4 linked regions of the Homo sapiens genome follow. The protein of the gene in region 2 purifies or fractionates together with the protein of the main gene of each other region. This does not show direct contact. Each region holds a gene or a part of one and is shown on either strand. Other genes may lie near its edges.

Region 1 (2,460 bases), on a different chromosome or scaffold from region 2:
GGGGGTTTGGCCTTAGCTATTGACCCCACTCTCTTCGCTGGCAGCCGGGCCCCTCCCTCCAGGAGGGTGCGCTCTGAGCAGGCTCTCCTTGCATCGTGCATCTTGTGGCCAAGCTAGTGGCCAGGTGGAGACCTCCAAAGGCGCGGTTTCCAGAACCCGGGCTCAGTGGGGCTGTCCTTCCTGTCCTGTCGGTGGCCTCCGTTGTTGGAGGCCTCCAGGTCCCACATCTGCAGCAGCAGGCGCGGGGCATGCGCTGCAGGGCTGCCTGGGAGGGACAGCGCTGCTTCCAAACAGCCGTGAGCCCCGCGGGGATCCAGAGCCCGGAGCCCTGTGCGCTGTTCCGGCAGCTGAGGCTCGGCTGGGTCCTCCTCTCCCTGGCCCTGGGCGGGGCGCTCACGCTAGGGCTCTGACCTTGTTCCAGAAGGCGGGAGGCGGCAGGAGAGCGCTGGGTGCGCCTGCGAGGAGGCCGCCCCCGCGGGGGTGCTGCCTGAGCTGCCTACGGAGGCGCCCCCTGGGGACGCCCTTGCCGATCCCCCGTCGGGCACCACTGAGGAGGAGGAAGAGCAGCCTGGGAAGGCCCCGGACCCGCAGGACCCCCAGGACGCGGAGTCCGACTCTGCCACCGGATCGCAGAGGCAGTCCGTCATCCAGCAGCCTGCCCCGGACAGGGGCACGGCGAAACTGGGAACCAAGAGGCCGCACCCCGAGGATGGGGACGGGCAGAGCCTCGAGGGCGTCTCTAGCTCCGGCGACAGCGCAGGGCTGGAGGCCGGGCAGGGCCCTGGGGCTGACGAGCCGGGCTTGTCCCGCGGGAAGCCCTATGCCTGCGGCGAGTGCGGGGAGGCCTTCGCGTGGCTCTCGCACCTGATGGAGCACCACAGCAGCCATGGCGGCCGGAAGCGCTACGCCTGTCAGGGCTGCTGGAAGACCTTCCACTTCAGCCTGGCCCTAGCCGAGCACCAGAAGACCCACGAGAAGGAGAAAAGCTACGCGCTGGGGGGCGCCCGGGGCCCCCAACCGTCCACCCGCGAAGCCCAGGCGGGGGCTAGGGCGGGCGGTCCCCCAGAGAGCGTGGAGGGCGAGGCTCCCCCCGCACCCCCAGAGGCGCAGAGGTGAGCCGCTGTGCTGTCCCGTTCCGGAGGGGCCGCTTTGCCGGCCGTGAATCCCAGACGAGGCATTGGGCCTTTCCACGCCCCTGGGTGGCGGCTTCCTGTGGTGTTTGTGGACGTCCTCTGCCTGTGCCCTGAATCCGCTCCTGAGGCTAAGCGCTCCCAACGAGAAGGGTCCACGGGAAGCCCTCACCTCTGTAAACACACCCTGGGCCAGCGCTCGCATCCGAGGGGAGCCGCCGGATGTGGAAGAAGACTCGGCTTTCCTGCAGCCATTTAGTGCCGCCCCATGCTAGGTTATTTGACATTGTGCAGTGTAGAGTTGCCTTAAAGTGCGTGATCTGCCAGTGCTTTCTTCAAGTCACCCTTGCCCCGATTCCTCCTGTTTGCGCTCCCCAGGGTTGCTCAAGTGGAAATTTTGTCAGCTGTTTAGCCTTTTCGTACTTGGCGTGATGTCAACTTCACTTCTAATCTGCAAAAGCAGAAGCTGTTTCCTAGTTTACCTCGCGTGTGTTTACCTATATGGAGTAGCTCGCAGAGATCACAGAAATGCTTGCAGCCTAAGGCAGGGTTTTCAGACCGTGGGTCCCAGCCCATTTAGTAAAATGGGAAATCAATTAGCAAGTGGTCACCAGCATTACACAGCAATGAAGCAGAATAAAGTAGGCCAGAATGCATCATGTAGTAAAGGCAAATACTGTTTTGTGAAACTTTTCACCCATACATCTAAATGTGAGAACTGGTTGCAATGTAAGACATTTCTTGCTGGGAAGTTGTGAGCAAAATAAGTTGAAAACACTAATAAAGATCTGTCTGTCTGAGCAAAGGAGACTAAACTCCTTGGGCTACATAAGGTGATCTTTTCATTGATTGCATTTATTCTCAAGATTACAGTATCATTCCCATTGCCTGCGCATAAACTTAACTGCTCCCTGCGCATAAACTTAACTGCTCCCTGTAGATACAGAAACTGGTGCCTCTTTTTCTGTCACTGTGTTTGAGCAGGCAGTCTGTTGTAATGACCCCCAAATCACAGAGACTTAGTAAGTACTTATTCATGGGCCGGGCGTGGTGGCTCACACCTGTAATCCCAACACTTTGTGAGGCTGAGGCAGGCAGATCATGGAGTTTGAGACCAGCCTGGCCAACATGGTGAAACCCTGTCTCTACTAAAAATACAAAAAATTAGCCAGCTGTGGTGATGCGTGCCTGTAATCCCAGCTACTCAGGAGGCTGAGGCAGGAGAATTGCTTGAACCTGGGAGGCGGAGGTTGCAGTAAGCCAAGATTGTGCCACTGCACCCTAGCCTAGGTGACAGTGCAAGACTCCATCTCAGAAAAAAAAGAAAAAA
Region 2 (3,522 bases):
GAGCAGGAGGCGAGACAGGCGGGAGGGGGCGGGGGCCAGGTGTGATCTGCAGAGGGGAGATGAGCAAGAACTTGAGGGATTTCCAGATGGGACTTTCTTGCCGATGCCCCGCCTCTACTTGATATTTAAGATGGAAATCCCAACTTAGAAGGAGTGTAAGAGGATAATAGTTACCCACAAACTGAAGTTCCCAGCTCTGTAGGAAGTAACCCTTGGAGAGCTCCAAAGACGAAGCTGCCCCAGCTCACATGGGGCAAGATGTAGGAGCTCAGGGCTTGGAATCCCAGAACCAGCTTCCCCCTACCTGTGTGAGCCTCTTTGAGCCTCAGTTTCCTCATCTGTAAAATACAGGGTTGGGCTGGGCACAGCGGCTCATGCCTGTAATCCCAGCACTTTGGGAGGCCGAGGCGGGCGGATCACTTGAGATCAGGAGTTCGAGACCAGCCTGGCCAACATGGTGAAACCCCCATCTCTACTAAAAATACAAAAATTAGCCGGGCATGGTGGTGCATGTCTGTAATCCCATCTACTCTGGAGGCTGAGACAGGAGAATCACTTGAACCCGGGAGGCAGAGGTTGCAGTGAGCCTAGATCTTGCCACTGTACTGCAGCCTGGGCGACAAAGTAAGACTCTGTCTCAAAAAATAAAAATAAATAAATAAATAATAAAATAAAATACAGGGCTGGGCCGAGCATAGTGGCTTACACCTATAATCCCAGCACTTTGGGAGGCTGAGGTGGGAGGACTGCTTTAGCCCAGGAGGTTGAGGCTGCAGTGAGCTGTGATCATGCCGCTGTACTCCAGCCTGGACAGCATAGTGAGACCCCATCTCAAAAAAGGAATACAGGGCCGGCTTCATGGGTGTGCCACCTGTGCAGTCGTCCAGGGCCCCACGTTTGGAAGGACCCCACACTTAGTTAAATGCTCTGATGCTATCATCTTAAAATTCTTAGTCGTTTTTGAACAAGGGCTAAATTTTTCATTTTGCACTGAGCCTGCAAATTATGCAGCTGTTCCTGGTGAAATGCCTCCCTCCTGGGTCTCTGTGAGAATTGAGTACGAGGCGATTCCTGGGAAGCACCCAGCACGGTGCTTTGCATAAAGTCAGTGGCTCAAGAAGTGGAGAAGCGCCCCAAAGTGAACCCCAGTACCCCGCAGGTTCCCTGCACTGCCTGTCCCTTCCCTCGGAGGAGGCACCACAGGGACTCCGGTCCCCGGACACCATCTGTTGATTGGCCCAGCCTGTGGGAGAGGGCTTGGCCTCCTCTGGAACCTTCCTGCTGCCCTGTGTGACTTGCTCGCCTCTCCGCAGCTGATCGCCTGGGAGCCGGAACAGGAAGAGGAGGTTACCATGGTGACCGCCCGGCCTAACTTTCAAGACAGCATCCACGTGGGCTTCGTGTCTGGCCTGAAGAAGTTCACCGAGTACTTCACCTCAGTGCTGTGTTTCACCACCCCCGGGGACGGGCCACGCAGCACCCCGCAGCTGGTGCGCACCCATGAGGATGGTAGGCACCCCCCAGCCCTGCTCTTTCTGCCCCCCCCCGCCCAAGGCCAGGCTGGGCGCCCCAGGCAGAAGGGTGGCCCAGGCTTGTCTCCCAGGCTGAGATACCCCCAGATTACCACAGGCTATCTCACAGATGGTGGTCTCTCTCTGGCTCTAACTGGCCTTGGGGGGTGGGGGTTCCTTTTGGGGTGCAGTGCCTGGGCCCGTGGGACACCTGAGCTTCAGTGAGATCCTGGACACATCGCTGAAGGTCAGCTGGCAAGAGCCGGGAGAGAAAAATGGCATCCTCACAGGTAGGCACTGCAGTGTTTCTGAACCAGAGGGCAGGACAGGGCTGGGAAAGGTCAGAGCTGGTCCATCCCCTGCCTTTGAGCTACTTTTCACCCAAACTCTTGAAGCCAACCCATGCTTTCTTAGAAACCACTCACAGGAGGCTCTTGGCACCTCCACTTCATAACACATCCCAGAGTCTGCAGCCCCACACCTTCTGCCACAGATCTCAGTGGCTGCCATGATGACTCACTATGTCCCCTGCAATTCCCTAAAGTGCTGGCATCCCACTGAGGCGACACCTGAGACCCAGGGCATGATGCCAACAGCTCCCACCTCCCTTGGCCCCATTGCTCCCAGCGTGGATCTAATTGCCAGCCTAGTGGAGAAGTGAGAAGTGGAGTAGTGGGTCAGGCCAACTTGTGATCACAGCCAAGCTCATGCCAACACGGCGGCTCTCCCCAGGGTACCGGATCTCCTGGGAGGAGTACAATCGAACCAACACCCGTGTGACCCACTACCTGCCCAACGTGACCCTGGAGTACCGTGTCACGGGCCTCACCGCGCTCACCACCTACACCATCGAGGTGGCCGCCATGACCTCAAAGGGCCAGGGCCAAGTGTCCGCCTCCACCATCTCCTCTGGGGTGCCCCCAGGTAAGTGCCCACTCTCAAGGCAGGACTCTTTGAGTTCTCCTGAGCAGCGTCCCATTCAAGAGGCCCCTTGTCGGCTGGGCGTGGTGGCTCATGCCTGTAGTCCCAGCACCTTGGGAGGCTGAGGCAGGCGTATCACTTGAGGTCAGGAGTTCGAGACCAGCCTGGCCAACGTGGTAAAACCCTACTAAAAATACAAAAATTAGCCAGCTGTGGTGGTGCATGCTTGTGATCCCAGTTAGTTGGGAGGCTGAGGATGGAAGATCGCTTGAACCCAGGAGGTAGAGGTTGCAGCGAGCCGAGATCACACCACTGCACTCCAGTCTGGGTGACAGGGCCACATCGCGTCTCAAAAAAAAAAATAAAAAGAGGCCCCTTGTCTTTCAGGAATACCAGCGTTCTTCCCACAGGCTCTCCCCTTCCCTTGTGCTGTGTGGGTCTGGGTCCCCTCAGAGCAGGCGGAATCCCTGGGATCCCAGGTCTCTGGACAGGGGCTCCCCTGGCTCCCTGCTGCATCCTCCCACAGCTCTCAGAAAAGCAGAGGCCCCCTGCCTTGTCTCATTTCCCCACCAGTCCCTCCCTTCACCCATTTCTCACCAGATTCCACACCAGGCAATGGTATCTGTGATTCAGGGGAAAATTTCCCACTGTCGCCCAGAGGGTCCACCTTGGATTCCAGCGTGTGGAAGGGTTGGTTGGGAGGTGGCAGAGCACGGTGGGGCTACTCCTAGGCCTGGCACAGAGAGCAAGCCGAGGTCCACTCTCAGCTCTGCTTCTGCCAAGCCCTACAACCTTGAGCAAGTTCTGTGTCCCCTCTGTGCCTCAGTTTCCCCATCTGTATATATGGGAAGTTGGACCAGATAACCATGTGGTCCCATCCAGATCAGTCAGGCAGTGCTTGTTTGACCTGCCAGCATCCCTCCACCTGCTGCGTAGATGGCTGGGCTGCCTGAGTCTCAGCCAAAGCCCAGTGATAATTACAGCCATGCTGGCAAATAGGTATGTAGTGTTCACGGGGCATGGTGCTGGGAGCTTTGCTCACGTTGACTCATTTAATCCTCACAACAACCCTGAGGGAGGTGTTGCTATT
Region 3 (3,522 bases), on a different chromosome or scaffold from region 2:
GCGGAGGTCTGGGTGGCCCTTCCCACTATTGCCACATCTGCTGTCCACCCAACATGCCCACACTCACTGCCATATCGTAAGGGAAAGGAGAGGAGGAAAGGAGGAAGGAAAGAGAGGCCTGTCCACACCATGGGCTATCAATAGCTCCTGGAGCCGAGAACCAAGGTCCCTGATGAGCGGGCTCTGACATAAGAGTGCCTCTGTTGAGGAGGGTGGACCAGCAAAACCTGGGCCCACCCACTCCTGCGTCCAGCCGGCTACCACACTGGAGGCCTGTGAGTCACTCCCCCGGCAAGCCCTGGTACGGGTGACGACGAGGGAGCTCAGCTGGCACTGGGGGGACTTGGCAGGAGGCCTCCTGCACAGCATCTAGTTCAGCAGTGCCAGCGAGGGGAGGCCCTGGCATGTCATTTACTGAGCAGCAGGTCTCCAGGGACATTGCAGCTGCCCTCCCTGGTGCATGTGTGTCCGGAACTGTGTAACCATCACCCAAGTCAACAGTTAGAATACGACACCCCCAGCCACATGGCACCTCCCTGAGCATAATTTCCTCCTCCACCTAAACATCACCACTCACCTGATAACAATGCTTTTCCTTTATCATTTATAGGCACATGTAAGCGTCTAGCTCTGTGTGCATCCCTAAACAGCATAGCGTTTTTAACTACATGGAATCATATTGTGTGTGTGCCTGTGGCTCTGGCTTCTTGGTTTAGCATTGTGAGATGCACTCATGGTGTTGCGTGTAGCTAGAGTTACTCGTTTTCACTGCTGTATAGTGTTCTGTTGCCTATAAAATACCCCTTCAGCCAATGGGCGGCAGGTAGGTCACTGTTTATTCCTCGCTTGCTGGTATTTTTAGTACCTGCATGAATCAAACACACCCCGTAATGGCATCTACAACTACCAGGCGTATATGAGGGGCAGAGACCAAGGGTGGTCACAAAGTCCTTTGCAAGTCTCACCCTTAAGCGCGTGGGGACTGTGTTGTTGCTGGCAGCCAGAATTAATGCTGATGTCCTGTATGTCTTGCAGCTTGCCGGGATTGCTGTCCTTGCCATTGGACTATGGCTCCGATTCGACTCTCAGACCAAGAGCATCTTCGAGCAAGAAACTAATAATAATAATTCCAGCTTCTACACAGGTGAGGGACGGGGAAGGCTCAGTGAATTCAGACCCTGGCTCCAACAAAGTTCCTGCAACTTTGGAGGCCCCATGTTGACCCAGGGACTTGGGCTTGGGAAAGACTTTTGCTCTAGCCACGCTGGCCAGTCGTGTCCCTTTCAAGTTGTGCAGTTTTTGTGTGTGTCGTTGTGCCTGGGAATTTGCGTTTAACTGATGTGGTTTCTTTTCCTGATGGCCAAGTCAGGCATGTTGATGGTTCTCTGATGTGATGTAGCCTCTGCCAAAGTTGTACTCATTCTTGAGGGTTTACGAACCTCTGTTCTCATCTCTGATGCTCTCTCCTGATTGTCTTCTTATCCTGCATCATTTCCTTAATTCAAAAAGCTTTGTCCTGGGGATCTGCAGTGCTGGAAGAAGATATAGACAGCTTTCCTCTTCACTGTTCAGATAGGGACTCTGAGACTGGGAAAAACATCAGCCTCCTGGAAAACACAGCAACAATAGGAGAGACTAGAATGGACTCTGCCCAGTCCTTTGGACCCCTGGTACTGGGGTAAATGCTGTAGTGTTTAGTTTTATTTGTTTGTATTTGACACGACTTTTGCTTTGGGAGAGAGGCTTCCAGTTTAAACCTGCCTGGGATCCTCTGAACATGAACAGACTTGGCAGGTTTCTTTCTACACTCAGGCTTCTTGGCAGCCTTGCTAGACCATTCTATCCCTCTCGTTGCCGTATCACCACGTCAAAGCTCCCTTCAGAGGAGGGGGAGCCTGGTGCCTGCCAAGTGCAGTTGCCCGCGTCTGCGTGAATTCAGACTCTGCGGCTGTACTCTGCCTGGCTTGGAGGTAGGAAACTTTTCATTTGTGAGGAACAAAGGAAACCTCCTATTTTTAGGATGACGCTGACATGTTGTCAGGCTCAAAATGTAAGTTTGGTCACTTCCTTCCCACCCACCAAAAAAGTTATTTTTACAAACGAGGGAGAAAACAGTTATCTCCCAGTCCCTCAGGGAGAAGCAAGGCTGGCCAGCCACGTAGACCTTCCCTTTCCCACCTCTTGAACTGGGTAGGGAGAGTCTTTAAAAACAGCTCCTTTGGTTGCGTAACATTTGAGCCCTGTGGATAGTTTTGCTGGGTTTACTGCTTTTTATTGTTAGCTGGGGTTTTTTGGGGTGTGTCTCTCTATTATCGGAAAGAAAGTGAGAGAAAGCACAATGTATGTTTAGAAAAAAAACTACACATACACACAGAGTTTTTGGGGAACAGGTTTCTATAGCGCCCTGACTTGTTTTGGCAACAGACCATTTTTTGGGAGTCTGTGACAGGCTTAGAATGCTGTCCTGCAGAGCAGGAGGGAGGAGCCGGGTGCGGGTGCTGGGGAAGACTCTCCACACTCCACGCCGTGTTCCAGAAGGGAGCCCTGTGCTGGGGGAGCAGGTCTGCCGGCAGGAGCAGGCACAGTCAGGCCTGCTTTCCTAAGCAAAAGCCCTGTGGCCGGCGCGTGTGTCTCCAAAGAGAGACTCAGTCCTCCCTTGTCCTGGCTGCTTCTAACAACCCACTTTTTCTTTTCTGTTACCCAAAGCCTCTATGGCTGATTCTTTATATTTTTAGATGTGGGAGTTAAGAATCTCATGGGTAAGAGGATGGAACTGGGAGGAAGACACTAACATTTTTATTTTTTATTTTTTTTATTTTTTTTTTGAGACGAAGTTTCAATCTTGTTGCCCAGGCTGGAGTGCAATGACACAATCTCGGCTCACCGCAACCTCTGCCTCCCAGGTTCAAGCGATTCTCCTGCCTCAGCCTCCTGAGTAGCTGGGATTACAGGCATGTGCCACCATGCCCAGCTGATTTTGTATTTTTAGTACAGACGGGGTTTCTCCATGTTGGTCAGGCTCGTCTCCAACTCCCGACCTCAGGTGATCCTCCCGTCTTGGCTTCCCGAAGTGATGGGATGACAGGCGTGAGCCACCTCGCCCGGCTGGAAGACACTAACATTTTTGAGCCCCCTTCTTTGTGTGTCATTCATTGTCTTGTGTGTATTATATAATTTAATCCCCTTAGCTCTACGAGGAGTGTGGAGTGATTCTCATCTCACAAGTGCAGAAACCGAGGCCTAGAGAGCTGAAATAACTTGTCTAAGCTTATATTCCCTCAAGAGGCAGGGCCAGGTTTTGAACCCAGGCCTAAAAGAGCTGCTTCTCGGGTTGTCATTGCCAGGTTGTGGGGTCTCCCTCTGTAGGAATGGAAGAGGTCTGTACTGGCTGAATGTGCCCCATTGGCAGGGATGGGGTGGCGCTGTCTTGGCCCTTTTACTTCACCCAAATTGCAGTCAGGGAGAGAAACCCCTGCGTCGGTGGCCCAGCCAGCAGCTGACAGGTGGGAAAGCTGCAGGGTG
Region 4 (2,373 bases), on a different chromosome or scaffold from region 2:
TCTCAGATGTCCCTGCATGAAAAGCCTCACGGATGTTTTCCATACATGAAAAGCCTATTTATAATTATCCAAGCCAATAGCCCCACTCCAGGTACATATAAAAAACAAAGCAGAGTTGGGCATGGTGGCCAGTGCCTGCAGTCCCAGCTACTATGGAGGCTCAGTTGGGAGGAGTGCCTAAGCCTAGGAGTTTGAGGCCAGCCTAGGCAACAGTGAGACCCTGTCTGTCTCTTAAGGGAAAAAAAAAAAAAAAGCATTTCTGCATTGGTTTTAATATACAAAGAATTTTCCAGAAGTACTACTAGGTAAATTAAGGAATGATTACACATTATTTAATTCAGAACTTTATCAAGAATTGTTCACCGTTTTTAAAAACCATGCCAGTGGCAAAAATGATGCCCATGGTATGTGAGTCGCCAACACAATGCCCAGTATCAGCTGCCCTGTAGCTACTACAGCCTCAGGGATGCCTCACATCAGTGCAGACACCTGACTACATTGTGTCTTCTGCACCCCCCACTGCCTAAGCACTTACATGATGAACTATGTTAAACAGCTGTAAATTGCTGTATTTCATTTCTACTTTATCTCAGATCATTATGTTAATTGTATTGGAATTGGGCATGTAGGTAGGTTATCTGTGAATTTCACTTGGGGATAATAAATAGGACATTACCACTGTTTGTTATAAAAATGGCCATTGGTTCTGAGGGGCTGAGAACCACTGCTGGTCTATGGCTCTCAAGCATGTGTCAGAATCACCCACTAGCCCCATACCAAGAATGTGCATTTCTCACATTCCTAGGGGATGCTGTTGCTGCTGGACTGGGGACCCCACTTTGAAAGCCACTGCTCTGCATGTCAGGTCACTATTCCTTTTAGGTCCCTTCTCAGCACCACCCCTGCTTCTCTCCTAGACCAGGGGTGTTGCCCAGGAAGCTGACCCAGGAGCAACCCCCAGAGGGGGTTACCATCCTCTAGGACTCCTGGGTCCCAGGTGGCCCCAGGGGCAGAGGCAAGCTGGTGCTGAGCATGGCTGGGCACACAGCACGCTGCGGGTACCAGGAAGCGCCGTGGTGGCTTCATGTGGAACAGCCCACAGTAGGTGCTCGGCAAACCCTGACAGGCGGCATCTCCCAGCCTGGGGGAATTCTTGGTTCCCTGAGCCCTTCTGTGCTGGGGTGGAAAACCACAGCAGTCCTGGCTCTGGGTCACAGCCAGGAATGTGGGAAAATCTCAGTGGCCAGGACCCCGACCTCAATAAACCCCTCCGATCACCCCAGGGTGGACCAGGAAGAGCAACATTTCCAGGGAAAGGCATTTCAAAGACATTACCTCCTTGTCGATAGTTTTGTAGCCACACATGGTGTTGACAACTTCTGTCTGAAATGGAAATGTATAATAGCTAATATTTATAATGGTTCTAACTCAAAAAGGCACTATTATCCTACCCATTTTACAGATGAAAACCGAAGCACAGAGTTGCACCGTCCAGCAGGGATGGAGCTGAGATTCCGACCCAGGCAGTCTGGCTTGAGTCTCCATCATAACCACCTCCTCCTCCAAGAAATGCCCCGTGAAAAAACTGTAGGAATGCAGGTTCCATGACTTTTACCTGGGAGAACCACCCCTCCACTAGCAGCAGATCAGGACCCCAGAGAAAGGTGTGCTGCCCACGCTCCCGGGCTATGACCGCCCCAGAGCACCGCTTTGCTCACACCGTCTCAGAGGTCGGGGTGGGGCTGTTCCTGCGCCGCTGGCTCTTGGGGAGGAAAACTTCAGACTACAGCTGGCACAGGGTCAGCTGTGGTTTACCTGAGGTCCAGGGCAGGGCCCCTGGCCATGCTTCCGTTCCATAGACCACTGCTCCACCAGCGGAGAGTGCTGCCAAAACTTCCTTCTTGGGAAGAGAGGTGCTCTCCAGAACTCCCGACTACTGATTAATTTAGGCATAGGGAAACCTGTGGTCACGCCCTAGACCTCATCAAACCCCTCCCCAGGCAGGCCCTAACTCACAGGCTGCCGCGGGCACTTCCCATCACCACCTGTGCCCCGCAGGGTCTCCTTCTCCAACCACCAGGGAAGAGAGTGAGACTTCCTGGTCCAGCCCATGACCGTCCCCCCCAGCCCCGCTGCTCTACATGTAAGTGAACGCTGCCGTGAGTGCTGCAGGCGCCAGTGATGACTCAGGAGGGCAACAGCAGAGCCCCCAGCGTGCCCTCTGGTGTCACATTTCCTGGGTCCAGATCTTGCTCTGCCACTTAGGAGCAGAGCCCAACCTTAGGTGGGCTGCTAAGGAACTGGCACGCAGAGGTACTCAATACATATTTGTTAACTGAGAAAATGAATGAATGAATAGGTTGTGATGATCAC

Evidence for each region.
Region 1: the proteins of SDK2 (region 2) and ZSCAN18 purify together in Homo sapiens (affinity purification with mass spectrometry; one large-scale study listed by BioGRID and IntAct). This does not show direct contact.
Region 3: the proteins of SDK2 (region 2) and CD9 purify together in Homo sapiens (co-immunoprecipitation; one large-scale study listed by IntAct). This does not show direct contact.
Region 4: the proteins of SDK2 (region 2) and TSPAN15 purify together in Homo sapiens (co-immunoprecipitation; one large-scale study listed by IntAct). This does not show direct contact.

Annotation. Positions count from the first base shown.
Region 1 is NC_000019.10:58,083,341-58,085,800, reverse strand, and holds the end of ZSCAN18 (zinc finger and SCAN domain-containing protein 18), read left to right. Parts: intron 1-421; coding exon 422-1,116; 3' UTR 1,117-1,945; downstream 1,946-2,460. UniProt on the Homo sapiens protein: May be involved in transcriptional regulation.
Region 2 is NC_000017.11:73,399,933-73,403,454, reverse strand, and holds part of SDK2 (protein sidekick-2 precursor), read left to right. Parts: intron 1-1,313; coding exon 1,314-1,509; intron 1,510-1,702; coding exon 1,703-1,801; intron 1,802-2,243; coding exon 2,244-2,435; intron 2,436-3,522.
Region 3 is NC_000012.12:6,224,391-6,227,912, forward strand, and holds part of CD9 (CD9 antigen), read left to right. Parts: intron 1-1,035; coding exon 1,036-1,144; intron 1,145-1,748; exon of another isoform or gene 1,749-1,970; intron 1,971-3,522. UniProt on the Homo sapiens protein: Integral membrane protein associated with integrins, which regulates different processes, such as sperm-egg fusion, platelet activation and aggregation, and cell adhesion.
Region 4 is NC_000010.11:69,503,448-69,505,820, reverse strand, and holds part of TSPAN15 (tetraspanin-15), read right to left. Parts: intron 1,384-2,373; coding exon 1,336-1,383; intron 1-1,335. UniProt on the Homo sapiens protein: Part of TspanC8 subgroup, composed of 6 members that interact with the transmembrane metalloprotease ADAM10.